Linked DNA regions of Homo sapiens. The protein of the gene in region 1 purifies or fractionates together with the protein of each later gene. This does not show direct contact. Each region holds a gene or a part of one and is shown on either strand. Other genes may lie near its edges.

Region 1 (3,898 bases):
TTGTTCTCCCTTTTTCAATTCTATCAATTAAAGTAAGTAAATTCTTATTAGTACATATAAAAACGTCCTTGAAGTTCTGGTTTTATTTCTCCTTAATACTAAGTTAATGAAAATATAAAGCAAGGCATTTGCATAGTATGCCTGATAAGAAAAAAATCAAGAACAGGCCAGGTGCAGTGCCTCATGCCTGTAATTCCAGCACTTTTGGGAGGCCGCGGTGAGTGGATCACCTCAGGTCAACAGTTCCAGACCAGCCTAGCCAACATGGCAAAACCTTGTCTTTAAAATTAGCTGGGCGTGGTGTCACATGCCTGTATTCTCAGCTAGGCAGGAGGCTGAGGCAGGAGAATCCTTTGAACTTGGGAGGCAAAGGCTGCTGTGGGCCAAGACTGCACCACTGCACTCCAGCCTAGGCAACAGAGTGAGACTCTGTCTGGAAAAAATAAAAAAAGAAGAAGAAAAAGAAACAAAAAAAAATCAAGAACAGATTATGAGAAAAATCAGATTGGGGCGTAGCTCCACACATCATTTCACTTAACCAAAAAAAAATCCCAATCCCTGATTTACGGCATGTGTTCCGAATAAAAGACTATGCAGATGTTAATTTAATATTTACAAAGAGTAGTTTGACCTCAAAACTATAGCAGTTTTATTACTGTGAATTTTTTGCACACACCTACAGGTTATATAACCTAAATATTTATTAAGTAGTCAATTCTATCTTCCTATTCTGGTTTACTGATTAAAAAAGCATAACATTGTTTCTTGATAATCCTTTTAAATGTGGAAAGAATGCCATAAAACCCTTTCCCAGAGATTATGAATTCTGGCTTAACTAAATTATTAGAAAGATTATACTTGTTGGAGTTATTAAGTTTCCTTTTGGGGTGAATGTAGGGAAGAAGTATGAAAGTTGAGCAATCTGCAGGGCAAGAGGAAGCAGAGTTACATAAGCCATGCTTGGGACACAGTTTAAATTCAGAGCTTTAGGGAATGCTTTACAGAAAGGGAATAAATTACTCACCTGGCAAAACTTGGTCCAACAGTGTAACTGCAATAAAGAATACATTCTGGGGACAAAGTACTCTAATTTAAAGTATGTTAAATACAAAATTAAGCTTAAAGAACACCTAGCTGGCACATCTCTCTATATATATTTTATGCCACAGAGTTATATTGACAAGTGAGATAAATTACTGCATACCTGGGAGGAGCTGTTGGATAAATAATTTTTATGTGTTGGAATGTTAAATCTTGATTTAAAACCTGCTTGATCCACATTCTTAATCCTTGTCCAGAATCACCTGATGAATCAAAAAATCTAGATTAAAATAAATATTTTAGTAATACAATGCATTTCAAAGCAGTCTAAAACTTTTATGTCACACAGAGGATGGAATAAAGGATTTAAAAAAGCTCCATACATCATAATAACCATATAGAAACTGACTTACTAATATGAATTAACTAACTAGGTCTCAATAACTAGCAATAATTTTGATTATTTTACTCCTGGCTTCACCATTGATTACTCTGAAGATCTTGTTTAAGCTTAAGTTTTAAGTTACCTAATTTGTTTAGTGGGTAGTACAGGAATAAATAAATAAATTGATTTTTCTAAAAAAAATTTTATTTCTGTATTTATATGTGACTTTTAATAGTCATTTCTTATCATATTCTTAATAGTAATAAATTCCTAAAGTGACTGTTAAACTTCTGTAGTTAGAAGAACCTAATTTTCTTGGTTAAAAAAAGTCCAAAATGTGTGTTCAGTGTAATTTTATTTTAACTTGAAAAAATCATAATTTAATTTTGACAACATGTTTACATGACCTAAAAGAAGAATTATCTACTCCAAAGCTGGTAAGTAATAAAAAGCCATATAAATATTAATGTATATGTATTTACAGAAAAAAATGGAAGGAAATATAAGTCCATCTTATGGAGTCCTGAGGAGGAAATTAAGGTCACAACTTTAATTTTTTAATCAATTAACTCATTAAGGTATCAGTTCAAAAACTGCCTATTGAATCCCTGTTAATGTGTCAAGCACTGTGTTCACTGCTAGAGAGGCAATGATGGTGGGGTGAGGGAGGAATAGAGTCCCTATTCTCATGGAGTGTGTAGCATATTGTGAAAAACAGAAATTAGTCAAAAAATCACACAAATAAATGTGAAAGGCAAATGTACCTGCTTCAAAAATGAGACACTTGGTGTTGCAAATATTTATTTTATTCACAACTGACTGGGTTTATGGAGTTCAACAATAAATGCACTAGCCTATAAACTCTGCAAGAGGAAGTTTATGATGTATTTTATCTGAGTTATTTGTTCACATAGTGCCTAGAACAGGACTGACAAAAACTGGGTATCCAAATATAGTTGCTGAATGGTTTGAACTAAAGTCTACAGGATGGTGAGAAGTGCAGGGCAGAAGAAAAAAGTATCCCAGGGCGAGGAAAGGGCAGGTGCCAGGATTCTGGATAAGAGGGAGCAGTATGACATGTAAGAACTGAAAAGCAGAGAATGAAAAGAGCAGTGTCTATAAAATGAGACCAGAGAAACTGTAGGAACGTGACAAATCTGTTCATGAAGAAGTCATGAATATTTCTGACAGAAAGGTTGGCATGATTCTAAAGGATCAATCTGGAAGCTGTGTCAAGACAGAATTGAAAGAGAGCAAAAGTAGATGTACAGAGATCAGTTAGGAAACTACTGTTCATGCTTAGACTACAGCGATGATGTAGATAGAAACAGATACTAGAGAAATTTAGGTGGTAAAATTAATAGAGATTGGCAACGGATTTGTTATAAAGGGTCAACAGTAAAAGGTCTCATGGATGACTAACAGGCTTTTGGCCGGAGTAACTGGGTGAACAATACTAGACACCTGCCTAGACAGGAAACATAAGCAACAGGCATACACAGGTTGAGTGTGAGGTGCCTCTTTGTAATGCATACAAGGTCTTATACCATGGGTTGATTGAGCAACTATGGACAGCTAGAGGGGAGGACAAAATCCAGCCTAGGGTCCTTAAGGAGGATAAGCTAAGAATGAGTTTTACATTATTAAAGACTCCTTTCTCAAAAAGAGAGAGAAGGGAAAACTATGGGGAAGAGACCTTACATGGCCCACAAAAGCTAAAATGCTTACCTGACTTTTTGCAGAAAGTTTGCCAACCCCTGCCCTACACTACCTGGATGCCAGTACCCTCTTGGATATCCCTTCCTATTCTTCTCACTCCAGACACACTAGCCTTACTGCTGTTCCTTGAACATGTCAAGGACCCTACCCTGGAGCCTCCGACTTGGCTTTAAAGCCAAGTCTAAGTCTAGCTGTGAAGTTTCATCTTCTGTCATCTTTGCAGTGAGGCATAACCTGACTACTTTATTTAAAATTGTAACACTGTTCCAACTTCTCATCCATGGAAGAATCCCCTTATCCTGCTTTCCTTGTTTCCATAAAACTTACTACCTTCTACTATAGTATTTATTTACTTCATTAGAACATAAGCTCCATGAGAGCAGTGATTTGTTTTTTTCATTGCTGTATGATCAGAGCACAGAACAGTGCCTTACACATGGAGGCTGTGATATATTTCTTGAATGAATGGATTCATGAATGAATGTCTATCAGGCAGTTAGATGAACTTGTCTAGAGCTCAAAAATAGAATCTATGAATCTCCACAGAAATTCAAAGGTTCTATTTTTACCTATACACCAGTGACACAAATGGGTATCTCTAGGAGACTTCTGTGATTAGCCTAGGGAGAAAAATGTAGAGTGAAAAGACCTTGGACCAAATTTAGAGAAACCCCATCATTAATGGCCAGGTAGAGGAGGATGAGTCTGCAAAAGAAACCAGAAGGAGCAAATCAAGACAGAAAAAGAACCAGG
Region 2 (4,773 bases), about 200 Mb from region 1:
CAGTAACCGGGATTACAGGCACCTGCCGTCGTGCCTGGCTAATTTTGTATTTTTAGTAGACACGGAGTTTCACCATGTTGGCCAGGCTGGTCTCGAGCTCCTCACCTCAGGTGATCTGCCCACCTCGGCCTCCCGAAGTGCTGGGATTACAGGCGTGAGCCACCGCGCCCAGCCCCCCTGACTCTTTTGAACCTCAGCTCTTTCAAGGCCTCTTGAGCCTTCTGAAGCACAGCTCACCCTGATGAGTTCTTTGCCTCTCTTCCCATTTCCTACACATTCTGATTTTCAAAAGCTCCATCTAGACCAGGGTTAGCAAACTGTGGACAGTGGGGCACATCAGGCTTCTGGTCTGTTTTTGTAATAAAGATGTCCTGGAAATAGTCACATTCATTTCTGTATTGTTTGTGTCTGCTTTCATGCTACCATGGCACAGTCAAGTCATTACTATCCAAACCATCAAATAACCTAAAATATTCACTCTCTGGCCATTTACAGAATAAGCCTGCTGACCCTCTCCGATAAAACTTCCCATAATCATGGGAATGTTCTATATCTTTGCTGTCCAATATGGTAGCCACTAGCCACATGTGACTATTGAACATTTGAAATGTGGCAAGCAGGCCAAGCATGGTGGCTTACGCCTATAATCCCAGCACTGTGGGAGGTCAAGACAGGAGGATCACTGGAGCTCAGAAGTTCGAGGCAAGCCTGGGCAACATAGTGAGACCCCATCTCTACAACAATGTATAAAAATTAGCTGGGCATGGTGGCGCATGCCTGTAGTCCTAGCTACACAGGAGGCTGAGGTGGGATTATTGCTTGGACCTAGGAGGTCAAGGCTGCAGTAAGCTGAGATCACACCACTGCACTCCAGCCTGGGCAACACAGCAAGACCCTGTCTCAAAAAAAAAAAAAACAAAGAAAAGAAAAGAAAAGAAAAAAGCACTGAGGAAATGAATTGTTAACATTTTTAATGTAAGTAAATTTCAGCTGGGTGCAGTGACTCACACCTGTAATCCCAGCACTTTGAGAGGCCGAGGCAGGTGGATCACCTGAGGTCAGAAGCTCCAGACTGGCCTGGCCAACACAGTGAAACCCTGTCTCTACTAAAAATACAAAATTAGCCGGGCTTGGTGGCGCGTGCCTGTAATCCCAGCTACTTGGGAGGTGAGGTAGGAGAATTGCTTGAACCCGGGTGGCAGAGTTTGCAGTGAGCCAAGATTGTGCCATTGCACTTCAGCCTGGGCAACAAGAGTGAAACTCTGTCTCAATAATAATAGTAATAATAATTTAATTTAATTTTTTTTTTTGAGACAGAGTCTCACTCTGTTGCCCGGGGCTGGAGTGCAGTGGTGCAATCTTGTCTCACTGCAACCTCCAACTCCCAGGTTCAAGGGATTCTCCTGCCTCAGCCTCCTGAGTAGCTGGGATTACAGGCGTGAGCCACCGCACCTGGCCTAATTTAATTAAATTTAAATAGCCACAGCACATCAAGTCCAGCCTTCTGAGCTTCCCTCCACTGGCCTTACAAGATCCCTCACTCCCTTATTGCTTTCAGACCTCAAAGCCCTGTAGTATCATCCTAGGAATCTAGAAATGAGTCTCTCAAAATCTCACTTCGTCAACACAGTGCCTGAAATTCCACCATCAGTGTGCCAACTCCTTGAGTTTAGCATTTCCTTCACCCCCGATTCCAATTTTAAGTTGCAAATAGCCCAGTGAGGGTTACAGATGAAACGGGCAAAACCTCCCCGTGAAGTAGATGGTCCAAGGGCTGCCTGGTCTTTGGAAGCTGAAGTGGACATTGCAAAGGGAGCAATGGTGTCAAGGCTGGATGCCACGCCATTAGAGCTTAGGGTCCAGAGCCCACGGTGGGAATGAGGGCAGCTGCTATTGCTCTTACCTGCCAGGGCCAGCTGTAGGGGACCGCATCCTCACCATGGACAACGCGGCTGGAAGAGTGAGAGGAAGGTGGGCCATAGCCTGAGGCTAGAGGGGAGAGGAGAGCTGTCAATCAGCTGGAGGGTCCCCAAAAGCAAAGAGGAGGCCAGGGTCCCAGTCCAAGCCATGCCTTCAACTGGCTGTGTGACCCCATGCAAGCCCCTTTCGCCCTCTGGACCTCAGTAACCACATATGAACAGTGAACATTTAAACTAGAGCAGGGCTTTCCAGAATCCCAGGAGTCCAGGGATAGAGATTCAAATGTGGCCTCCTTCATTGGGAGGATTGAAGAGCTTGATACACTTAGAACAATGCCTGGCCCTCGATGAGCCCTCAAAAAGTGAGAGCTATTGTCATACAGAGTGGAGGCTTTAAAGAAGGACTTCCTGGGTTCAAAGTGCAGCTCTGGGCTGTGTGTGGTGGTTCACACCTGTAATCCTAGTGCTCTGAGAGGCCGAGGCGGGAGGATCGCTTGAGCCCGGGAGTTTGAGACCAGCCTGGGCAACATAGCAAGACCTCATCTCTAGAAAAATAAAGTACAATAAAATAAAGTAGCCAGGTATGGTGGCATGTGCCTATAATCTCAGCTACTCAGGAGGCTAAGGTGGTAGGATTGCTTGAGGCCAGGATTTTGAGACCAGTCTGGGCAACAAAGCAAGACCCCATCTCTACAAAAAAAAAGCAAAAAATAAAAACATTAAGTGCAGCTCTGCCTTTTGTTCTATGATAAGCTACTTTACTTCCTTGAGGGTCAGTAAAATGGGGGATAATGATAGTACTGATCTCCTGAGGCTGTTGTGAGAATTACATGAGAAAGTATAAGAAAATCCCTAAACATTCTGCCTGGCATAGTAAGCACTCAATCAATGTTATCTGTTACCATTATTGTCAGTCAAGGGAGGCTGTTTGGAAGAGGTGGCCCTGAGCTGGAATGTAATATGGCAGAGAGACCAGGAAAAGGCCAGAGCATAGAATATGGAGCCAGGTAGGGGGAGTGAGAGGAGAGTTGGAGTGGTAAGTAGAACTGTGGAAATTCCAACCCAAGAAGTCCAACCACACAGTCCAAACTCTTAACCGTTTGACTTTGTTTACTGCCCCCATCAAGGACTTCCACCACAGCCCTTTGGGGGTCTTTCACCATCCACAGCTTCCCCTCCACTCTCCTGCTCCATCATAAGCTGAAAGCCCCTACAGTCATGCCCCCGGGTACAAGCTGAGACCCCCTCCTGTGGAACCAGGCATAGCATGTCATGGGACTCAGAGCGAGTGGTAGATTTCAAGGATTCCTAGTCCAGGGCAGCCCAGGGAGCACACAGACAGGTTGGGGTCTTACCAACGGCCACAAGGAGGAGGGAACTGAGCAGCCGGAGCATCATGAGTTTTGTGATGATAGGAAAAGGGCACAGAGCCTGGGGCTCTAATATAGGGCAGAAGGTAAGCAGGGGGGCTGATTGGGCCCCACTCCCAGAACAGGTGGTGGAACTCCAGGTCTCCCATGGTCCAAGGCCACAGTCCTCGCCTGCTGCAGATGGACAAGTGACAGCCAAAGGGAGGACCTAGCGTTCCCTCCAACAGGTGGCTGGACAGGTGGTGTGGAGTGGCCAACTGATAACAAGAGTTCAGGAAGAAAAGCTCATGTCAGGACAAGACCTCCTCTTTCGGAAAGAACAGGGGCACTGGAACCGGGCAGACCACGGTTCAATCCTGGTTCTGCCACCTTCAAGCTCTGCGACTTTGGGCGCATGGCTTAACCTCTCTGAGTCTCAGTTTTCTGCTCTCTAACATGAGATTTATATTAGTACCCACCTCCACAAAAAAATTCTTGTTGAGCACTTTTTCTCTATGTATCAGGCACTGTTCTAGGGGATACAGCTGTGAAAAATGCATGGTCTCAGCCCTTCTAGAGTTTGAGTCTAGGCCAGGAGCGGTGGCTCACACCTGTGATCCCAGCGCTTTGGGAGGCCAAGGTGGGAGGATCACTTGAGGTCAGAAGTTCGAGACATGATGAAACCCTATCTCTACTAAAACTACAAAAATTAGCCAGGTGTGGTGGTGAGCACCTGTAATCCCAGCACCTGTAATCCTAGCTACTGGGAGGCTGAGGGAGGAGAATCACTTGAACCTGGGAGCGGAGAGGCAGAGGCTACAGAGAGCCGAGATCATGCCACTGCACTCCAGCCTGGGCCACAGAGCAACACTGTCTCAAAAAACAAAAACAAAACCAAAAAAAAAAACAGAGAAGAAAAGAAAATGAAACATAGGTGATTGGGGTAGGAATGGGAGTAAGTCATTTAGATGGGGGGGACAGAGAAAGTGACATTTGGGCTGAGGAGGTCATATCTGATGGAGTCCTGAGGATAAGTAAAAGCCAGCCACGGGAATCCCTGAAAGAAACGCGCTCTGAAGGGAGGCGACAGCAGGTGCGAAGTTCTGGAGGCTGCAATGGGCTTGACTTGTTCAAGGAAGGGGAGGCCAGTGTGACAGGAGCTTGGTAGTCAAAGTAGAGAGGGGTGGGAGATGAGGTCAAAGAGCAGGCGACCCCGAAAGTGGAATTCACAGGTGATCCAGCCGTTTCCCTCCTAGGTCTATACCGTGAGAAAACCTTAGGCATGTGCTCCAGGAGGTGTGGATGAGATTGTTTGCCGCAGCCCCTGTTCTCAAAACTCAACAGCAAAGACCTAGAAACAACTCCCACGTCCATCAAGGTTCATAGGTCAATATGTGTAGCATATTCACACAATAGATTTTTTTTTTTATAGTGGTGCGATCTTGGCTCACTGCAACCTCCACCTCACGGGTTCAAGCGATTCTCCTGCCTCAGCCTCCTGAGTA
Region 3 (4,536 bases), on another chromosome or scaffold:
AGCTGTCTCCACGATGCTTTGAGCTTGGGAATATTTGTGATCGTCAGGCTGCCCTCTTCCCTTTTATCATCTCCCCCTCCATCCTGGTCTTTAAGCTCTCTGAACTCCTCAGCAGGCATGCACAGTACCTAGAAGCAACCACAGAGCTCTTTAATTAGATGTACTGCTTTTGTACTTCTGAAATGACTCAGGAGACTAAACTCATCTTAGCATTTATTAAAAATCCCACATTTCCTCTCTCATCTTCTAGCTATTTTGCTTTAAATACTTAGATTATCAGCATTAAATGGCCATTTTCAGCCGTTTACCTTTAGTGTGGTGGTCAGCTCCTCTTCAGTCAGCACCTCCTCCCTCCCTATCACAAAGGCTCCCTCTTCCCCTACCATCTCCAGTTTGCATAGGAAATCCCAGCGCTCGTACACTAGGTGCCTTTCAGCTTCAGTTTTTGTTCCTGTAGATGAAACAGCAATGTGAAAGTCTCAGTACACCCAAGGGTTCATTTCTTCTTTAGTCTGCCACCCAGTCTACAAAGTCAACTGCTATTTAGCAAAGCTATTTAACCTGAGGCATGGGTATAGACACACCATCAGTGTCAAATATTGAGTTAATGATACACTCACCCTGTAATGCTGCCTCACGAACTGTCACCATCTGAATGTCAGCTGTGTCATCTGTGTTGTCAGGATATGGTTCAACAAAACCGTACATATGAATCAGTTGCCAGTTAGCCATTTGCCCATAAGTGTTGAAAATCTCATGGCCTTTAGGAATGGGCTGAGTGGCTACCATCCGAAGACAATTCTGAGGTGAAAGGGAGAAGCTGGGGCCATGCCTTTCACGGGCCAGCCCCATGAAGATTATTTCCACTTAAGAAGAGCCTTCAGCAGGTGTAGTTCAGCCATGACTGATGCTGTTAACTACCAAAGTTCTACCTTTAGTTCCTGTTAGACCCTAAACTGTGAAACAAAAAAGGGTTGGGCTAACTTTAAAAGGCCAGCTTCATGTTTAACTGGGTGGATTTCTGCACAGTCCTCTTCAGCACTTAAAAAGTTGCTAGCTTTAAAAACGAAATTTTCGGCCAGGCGCAGTGGCTCACACCTGTAATCCCAGCACTTAGGGAGGTCAAAGTGGGCAGATCACCTGAGATCAGGAGTTCAAGACCAGCCTGGCCAACACGGAGAAACCCCATCCCTACTAAAAAATACAAAAATTAGCCGGGCATGGTGGCAGGAGCCTGTAATTCCAACTACTCGGGAGGCTGAGGCAGGGAGAATTGCTTGAACCCAGGAGGCGGCAGTTGCAGTGAGCCGAGATCACGCCACTGCACTCCAGCCTGGGCGACACAGTGAGACTCCGCCTCGGGGGGGAAAAAATGGAACTTTCGCAGATCAAAGTGGGAAAGGAAAATGGAGGCAAGGATTAAGAAATAACCATACTTACTAATTTCTGATCCTATAAATGTGCCATCTTTTCAGGCTACTTTTTATATAGAATAGAGCTGGTATAAACACAGCTTTATATCAGTTCTAGGATCGTCTTAGACCTTTGGCCTGTGAATGTCCTCATCCCTCCAAAACACGGAGACTATCACTGTTCCAGGCTGCTATCCACAGAGCCACACACAGTCTGGGCTCACTGATGTGATCAGCCAGAAAGGAATGAAACATGGCTATGCAGACCACTCAATGTCTAGCACTAAATAAATGATGGTAGTATAGTTTATCAGAGGATTAACCACAACTTACTTTGAGGACTTTAAAATGTTTCGCATTCAAATGATTCTACAGTAATATGCATACTAAAAGGACATACAGGAGGAGCTGATTTCACCTACTCATTTTGTAGCACTAGTAAGAGAATGGAGCCTAAGACACAATGGCTTGAATCATGCTCAATCAGTGCACCAAGAGAAACTCCACTCACCGCAGAGTATTCTAGATTGGCGTTGTGATTGGCTAAGTGGTTTAGTATGTCTGCAGCAGGCACCATCACGGGGGAGTTGGGCTCCTTTTCATCCTCTTCTTCCTCCAGTGGTTCCTGAAAGCTGCCATTGACAGAACCTGGCTAAGGCCCTGTCTTGGGTGAGGGACTGGGGGTGGATTTCACTGTTTTTCCACTTTTGTCCCTCTATAGAGTTGTAAAGAAAAGGGTTCCGTCCTCAGAGGCCCCACCCACTGACCTATAGGCCATCACAAGGGCCACCAGCTGGTGGTAGAGTTCTAGGGAGCGAACCCTGAGGCTGAAGAGATCGGGGTGGGCTTCCATGAAGGGCAGCACGATGGACTGGTACTCGCTGCGGATGTTGGCCAAATCCTTCTCCACGGCCTCAGGTACGCCTGTGCCCTGGAGCAGGCACCGGCGCTCCTCCTCTGGCCTGCAGGGACACCCACACCCAGGTTCCCTTCATTCCTTCACACACTTTACTGGGTAGGACTGGTGCAGGGGCGGGGAAACTTCTTGCAGCAGGCTACGGTGCAGGCGCTCCCCAACCCCTCCCAAGGCTCTCACCAGAACATCGGGTGCTCCAAGCGGCCCAGCTCGGGCCAGAGCGCAAAGTAGGGCCTCCAGCGTGAGGCCGGGGCCTGCAGCTCGTGGAGCAGCGCCAGCAGCAGTGGCACCCAGCCCGACTGGCTCTGCAGCGCAACTCGCTCTGAGGAAGACACAGGTGTGAGCGCCCCGGCGCGGCCTCGCGGGCCGGGCCCGCCCCGCCCCGCCCCGCCCCGCCCCAGGGCCCTAGCCCGCCGCCGTGCCCACCTCGCTCCAGCAGGCCGCCGATGGAGCAGGTGTGCTGCGACAGGAGCGCGGCCCGCGGCACCACGAACAACAGCTCTCCGGCCTGCACGCTCTCCCGGGCCACCATGCCGTAGCCGGCCACCGTGCCCTGCCGGCTGACCGCCACCTGAGCAGGAGGGCTGGTCAGGGCAGCCCGCGCCCCGCCGCGGGTCCTCCGCCCGCCGGCTCGCTCGCTCACCTTGGGACTCAGCTCCAGCCCCACCCGCCGGCACCAGCTCAGGAAGCAGGCCACAGGATCCAGGTCGCCGCCGTCCACGGGCCCCGCCACCTGAGATAAGTGCGCGCAGTGACCAGGTCCGACCCCCAGAGAGGCCGCTGGGAACTGCAGGAGACCGCGGCGCGAGCGCAGAACGGGCTTTGGGTGGAGGAGGGGACGAGCGGAGAGGGGCGCGGGACCCGCGGGAGGGAGCGGAGGGGGCGCAGGCGGACGGTTCTGCGAACGGAGAAGGGGTGAGGCGCGGAGGAAAAGGCTGGACCCCGCGCCCGCCACTCACCCGTGGACGCTTCGCCTGGGTCGCCATGGTCTAAGAGCGCGTTTCCTCGCGGGCCGGCGCACCGCGCGGTCACTTCCGGCGTCTCTGGCCCCGCCCCGGCGCCGGAACCACGTGGTGCCTGTTTTGTCGTCCACGCTGCAGACTGGCCGGAGTTACCGCGGGCTGGAATCGTTCCTCATGAAAACATCTTGAGTCCAGGATCTCCAATTGCACTCACGCGCTGCGAGTGCAGAAGGAGAGTCCCGTGCCGCTTGGCGCCTGGTTCTGAGCCAGGTACAGCCCTGGCCTTCGGTCTGTCCCCGAGGGCTGAGGCTTCTTGCGGTCTGGGTGCAAGAACAAAATACGGTTTCTGGATCGGAAGCCGAGGGTCTGGTGGCCGGCCGGTGGTGAGCGACGCAACTGGGCGGCGAGCGACCTCCTGATCTCGACCCCTTGTTGCCGATGGCCATGGAACCCTTTTACTGGTGGTATTCGTTCAGAGCAGTTTTCGTGTGTGTTTCAGAGTGGCGTGGCCTAGAGGGCTCCTGGATCTAGAATAGATCCTCTCTGCCCTTATTTGCCAGTACATCCTCGTTTTTAATCTGCTGCATAGCACGTGGTGGGTTTTATTAGCTGACATAGTAGGGACTCAATATCTACCTATTGGGTAAATAAATGAATAAAACAAATGGTGGTTAAACCTGGGGAAGTAGCATGCTGTTAAATGTAAGAAAATGAGGCTGTGAATATAGAGGTTACAGGAATGGGTTTTGAAGCCAAGCAACGCCGCAGCTCAACACTCAGTTTTTTTTTTTTTTCCTTTTTTTTTTTTTTTTTTTTGGCGCGTTGGGGAGACGGGAGTCTCGCCCAGGCTGGAGTGCAGTGGTGCGATCTCGGCTCACTGCAACCTCCACCTCCCGGGTTCAAGCAATTCCCCTGCCTCAGCCTCCCAAGTAGCTGGGACTACAGGCGTACGCTGCCATGCCCAGCTAATTTTTTGTGTTTATTTTTAGTAGAGTCGGGGTTTCACCGCGTTGCCCAGGCTGGTCTCGAACTCCTGAGCTCAGGCAATCCCCCCGCCTCGGCCTCCCAGAGTGCTAGGATTACAGGCGTGAGCCACCGCGCGCGGCCTGGTCTGTTACTCAGGCAAATCCTTTTTCCTGAACCTTAGTCTCCTCACCTGCGAAACTAAGATAATACCTACTCTGTAGAATTAATGTAAGGATTGGTATGTTGACTAAAGAAAAAATATTAAGCTTTTAAATAATTA
Region 4 (4,035 bases), on another chromosome or scaffold:
GTTTACCTTGATTAGGAAATCTAAAGGAATAAAGTTCTGCATGAGAAACTATGTAAACTACACTAAGTGGTATGCTGTGGGATTAAGAGCACAGGTCCTGGGCTCACACTGCCTGCCATAGAACAGCCATTTCTCAATTTACAAGCTAAGGGGTTGCATGTCTCTATCTACACAATATCTACAGGGATAGTAGTAGCTGCCTCTAGGGTTATTAGGAGGATTGAATGAGGAGCAGAACTATGAACTCTTGTCAGCCCTTTACACTTTGCAAAGCTCTGTCCAGATCTGTTATTTATTTAATACTCTCAGCAATCTCATCAAGTATACTGGAGTCCTGGGGCTTGGACTTTTGACAATTATTAACTCCATTTTACAAAAAAAAAATGTAATAGATCTCAGAGAAGTTATGGGGCTTGTCCAAGGTTTCACAGATAATCATAACTCTAATCTGAACTTGGATGTTTGACTTCCAAGCCCAGACCTCTTTCCCAGAGAGCTCCCATCAAAAGAAGGTTTTGATGACCAGGCACTGAAACTTGGTACTTAAATGGTTGTCCTTTGACCTAATCACAATCTCCCCAACCCCTACCCCCACACTACTTTAATCCTGCATTTCCCTAAGGTGCTCTAAGGGTAGTAGGAAGAATCAGCCATTGTTTCAGGTAAGGCTTCCTGTCTTCAGAGTACAGAAATACACTTAGGGTGGCTTTCACTAAAAAAAAAAAAAAAAAAAGGAAGGTGTTAACTCTAAGAATATGGGAGTGTCCCATGGAGCCCAAGGACAGGTGGGAAGCTGGTTTCTCCAGGGAGTGGACCTTGGAACGGGGAACTTGTGTGAACCGAAGGCACCCTCCTTTCTCCTTCGCTCCAGAGCAGCACGGCCTTCTGCCTGTACTGTTCTCTGATGTTTGCTTCTCTCTTTCTCTCCAGATGGACTTTTCTGCCCTCATAAACTCCTGCTAATTGTACCAGCTAATGCCATGGAGCACTTAGGATGTGCCAGGCTGTTCAAGAATTTTTCCCATATTGACTTATTTATTCTATACAACTGCCAGTGAATAGTAATGGGACTATGATGATCTCATTTTACAGATGAGAGGAGCAAGGCACAGAGAAGTGAAGTAACTTGTGTAAGGTCACACAGCCCTAGGTGACACCCCCCCGGGCAGTCTGGCTCTGGGATCCATGCTCTTAACCACTGTGCTACATGGCCTCCATGGCCTAATGCAGTGTCTTAGTCCCATTTTTCATACTTGACAGTTCAGTATGGACTGAACTGACAAATAGACTGAACCTGGCATTTCAGTCCTCAGCAGGGACTGGCCAGCAGGGAGCCCTGTTCCAAACTTCCCGCAGAGAGGGATCCAGGTGCCCACCTCTGTCCCACTTCCCAGGGCACTGGCATTCCCAGGCTACCCAGCTGCACTGAAGTGGAAGGGTTATGCAGTAGAAATGTGACTTCCAGGCAGGATGACCTACCATCCGCATTGTCCAGAGAGCTGCCCAGGACTTTCAGTGCTAAAAACAGACAACACCAGGCAAAGCAAAATGGTTGGTTGCTCTACACGGGATCAAAGGGGTGAAGAGACAGTTCTCAGAGAAATGAGCTGTTAACCAAGAGAGTACTCCAAAGGGTGATGACTGGCCACATAAGGGCTCTCTTCCACCCCATTCACCCCCACTCCCCAAGAAATGGCTTCTTGCTTCTCTGCATTCTCTTGATGTGATGGGCCAAGATAACACAGAACCTGGAGTGTCTATGGACCTGCTGGGTTCCAACAGCCAGGGGAAAGTTCCAGCAGTGATTGAAGGAAAAGGTTTTGACAGGAAAAAGAGGAAGAATTAGGGAATTTGCCTGAAACCAACAGGCAGAAGCTGAAGCAGGGAAGCAGAGCAAGTTGGGGAGGTTCAGAAGTGCCCCCCACCAGAGGCTGGAGCAGGTGCCAATGTATTCAGTTCACAGAGGTCTGGGCAGACAGTGGTGGGCACCACAGGTCCAGCAATAAGTCACAATGTTCTAACTTTATGCTACTCTCTAGAACTATGCCCCCATGTTTCAGTAAAATGAGCACTGGCTTAGGAGTCCTCTTACGAGTAAGATTCAGTTTATTCTCTTTGAATAACCAGACAACTTATCAGAAAAATGTGGCACAGCCAAGCCCACTAAAAAACTGGGCCAGAAAAATGCCTTGCTCAACCATAGTAGTGCTACTGATCAGATAACAACCTTGGCTCTTAGTGTTATCTATATGCAATGTGCAAACAGAAGACGGAGGATCAGCTGTGGATTGAAACTCTAACATCGACAATTGAAAACCTCAATTTTGACTTGCAACTAAATGCCATAATCAAGAGCCATAAAATGTTCATTCTTGTTGACCCAATCATTCCCATTTTAGAATACATACAAGGAAATTATCTTAAATGCAGATAAGGATTCTCTAAAATGCCATGTATCACAAAGTTATTCCTAATGATAGTTAATCAACTGAAGAAATAATTAACTTGAAAAAATATTATGCGATCATAATATGATCACATGATTATGTGATTAACCATATAACAGTTATGGTTATAAAGACTAGTGGAAAACATTTAGATATAAAATTATATGTAGAGTAAGAAAACAATAGTACAAAGGCAACAAAAGTCAAAATTTATGTAACGCCAAACAGGACAGGAAGGGTTACACCAGTTTTCTGCTGATGAGAGTTTAGGTGTTTTATTGTTGTTGTTGTTTTCCTATTTTCCTTTTCAAAATGTGTATTTATAAGTTTTATAATGGAAATAAATTCTCTCAGCATCTCTCAACTATTCCTCAGTGCGTTTTGAAAGTTTATGTAAATGGCCGGGCACGGTGGCTCACACCTATAATCCCAGCACTTTGGGAGGCTGAGGTGGGCGGATCACCTGAGGTCAGGAGTTTGAGACCAGCCTGGCCAACATGGCAAAACCCTGTCTCTACTAAAAAGTGCAAAAATTAGCCGGATATGGTGGTGCACACCTGTAATCCCAGCTACTCAGGAGGCTGAGGCAGGAGAATCGCTTGAACCCAGGAGGTGGAAGTTGCAGTGAGTCGAGATCATGCCACTGCACTCCAGCCTGGGTGACAGAGCAAGACCTTGTCTCAAAAAAAAAAAAAAAAAAAAAAAAAAAAAAAAAAAAAAAAGAAAGTCTGTGTAACTTATCACCGTGTGTGAGGGGTTTATGTGAGTTCTGGAGACCTACTGTAAATTCTGCACTGGTCTTCTCTGCGTTGCCTGGTGAATGGGGGCTGCTGTACTTACTGTGTTCGCCGGCAGGGTGAAGTTCAGTGAAAAACTCTGCAAGATAGAAGTAAACATTAAAGCTCCCAGGGATGGTCAGCAAGCTCCTTCCTCACTTCCTCAAACTCACTGACCCTGGTGGATTCCGAGAGGTCATTGATCCTATAGACTCAGCCAGCCCCCATCGTCCTGCACAGTCTTGGCCCCAAAAGAAGGAAGGGGAGGCAAGGAGCCTGTCATGAGTTCCTCCCTCAGCATCAAGTCAGTCTTGCCACCGCCCCCAACCAGGTCCTCGACCAGGATCAGATGAAGAGGCAGCCTGCAAGGCTATTGTCTGAGGGGTCCCATTCACAAGGGCAGCAAACACATGACTAGAAATTCAGCAAAAGGCTAAAATTATGTTTATTCCCTCTAGAACTCCTTTGAGACAGAAAACTGTTGAATTTAGAAGTATTTTGTGTTTTCTCCTTGGAGTAGAAGGTAAGACCCCCAAAGGGCATGGTCTAACAAGAACACCTGATCCTTACCCGGGGAAGGCAAGGCTTCTGTTTTTGCTACAACTGAGGCAGAGGTTCTAGGTTGCTGGAGCTGAAGTGGCCAGGAGGACAGGGGAACAGCAAACCCTTCTCTTTCCTCCCCTCACTTAGTAGATGGTCTCACCTCTCCCGCAAATATGGAGTCCAAATTTAAAGATCGTGGGCTCAGTGGAGCACCAAGTAGCCTGCCCAGGGCCTCAGGTGGCTCCTTTCTCCTCCCTGTCCCTAGCCCC

Evidence for each region.
Region 2: the proteins of LYPLAL1 (region 1) and CELA3A purify together in Homo sapiens (co-immunoprecipitation; one large-scale study listed by IntAct). This does not show direct contact.
Region 3: the proteins of LYPLAL1 (region 1) and SETD6 purify together in Homo sapiens (co-immunoprecipitation; one large-scale study listed by IntAct). This does not show direct contact.
Region 4: the proteins of LYPLAL1 (region 1) and OPALIN purify together in Homo sapiens (co-immunoprecipitation; one large-scale study listed by IntAct). This does not show direct contact.

Annotation. Positions count from the first base shown.
Region 1 is NC_000001.11:219,176,553-219,180,450, reverse strand, and holds part of LYPLAL1 (lysophospholipase-like protein 1), read right to left. Parts: intron 1,305-3,898; coding exon 1,205-1,304; intron 1,052-1,204; coding exon of another isoform or gene 1,025-1,051; intron 1-1,024.
Region 2 is NC_000001.11:22,000,219-22,004,991, reverse strand, and holds the start of CELA3A (chymotrypsin-like elastase family member 3A preproprotein), read right to left. Parts: upstream 3,336-4,773; 5' UTR 3,318-3,335; coding exon 3,275-3,317; intron 1,990-3,274; coding exon 1,904-1,989; intron 1-1,903. UniProt on the Homo sapiens protein: Efficient protease with alanine specificity but only little elastolytic activity.
Region 3 is NC_000016.10:58,514,316-58,518,851, reverse strand, and holds the start of SETD6 (N-lysine methyltransferase SETD6), read right to left. Parts: upstream 3,336-4,536; 5' UTR 3,315-3,335; coding exon 3,288-3,314; coding exon of another isoform or gene 3,062-3,287; coding exon 2,755-3,061; intron 2,651-2,754; coding exon 2,509-2,650; coding exon of another isoform or gene 2,404-2,508; exon of another isoform or gene 2,375-2,403; coding exon 2,180-2,374; intron 2,045-2,179; coding exon 1,924-2,044; intron 957-1,923; coding exon of another isoform or gene 945-956; exon of another isoform or gene 833-944; coding exon of another isoform or gene 802-832; coding exon 621-801; exon of another isoform or gene 620-620; intron 452-619; coding exon 309-451; intron 129-308; coding exon 1-128. UniProt on the Homo sapiens protein: Protein-lysine N-methyltransferase. Monomethylates 'Lys-310' of the RELA subunit of NF-kappa-B complex, leading to down-regulation of NF-kappa-B transcription factor activity. Monomethylates 'Lys-8' of H2AZ (H2AZK8me1).
Region 4 is NC_000010.11:96,351,968-96,356,002, forward strand, and holds part of OPALIN (opalin), read right to left. Parts: intron 3,324-4,035; coding exon 3,288-3,323; exon of another isoform or gene 3,229-3,287; intron 1,562-3,228; exon of another isoform or gene 1,489-1,561; coding exon of another isoform or gene 1,480-1,488; intron 1-1,479. UniProt on the Homo sapiens protein: Central nervous system-specific myelin protein that increase myelin genes expression during oligodendrocyte differentiation. Promotes oligodendrocyte terminal differentiation.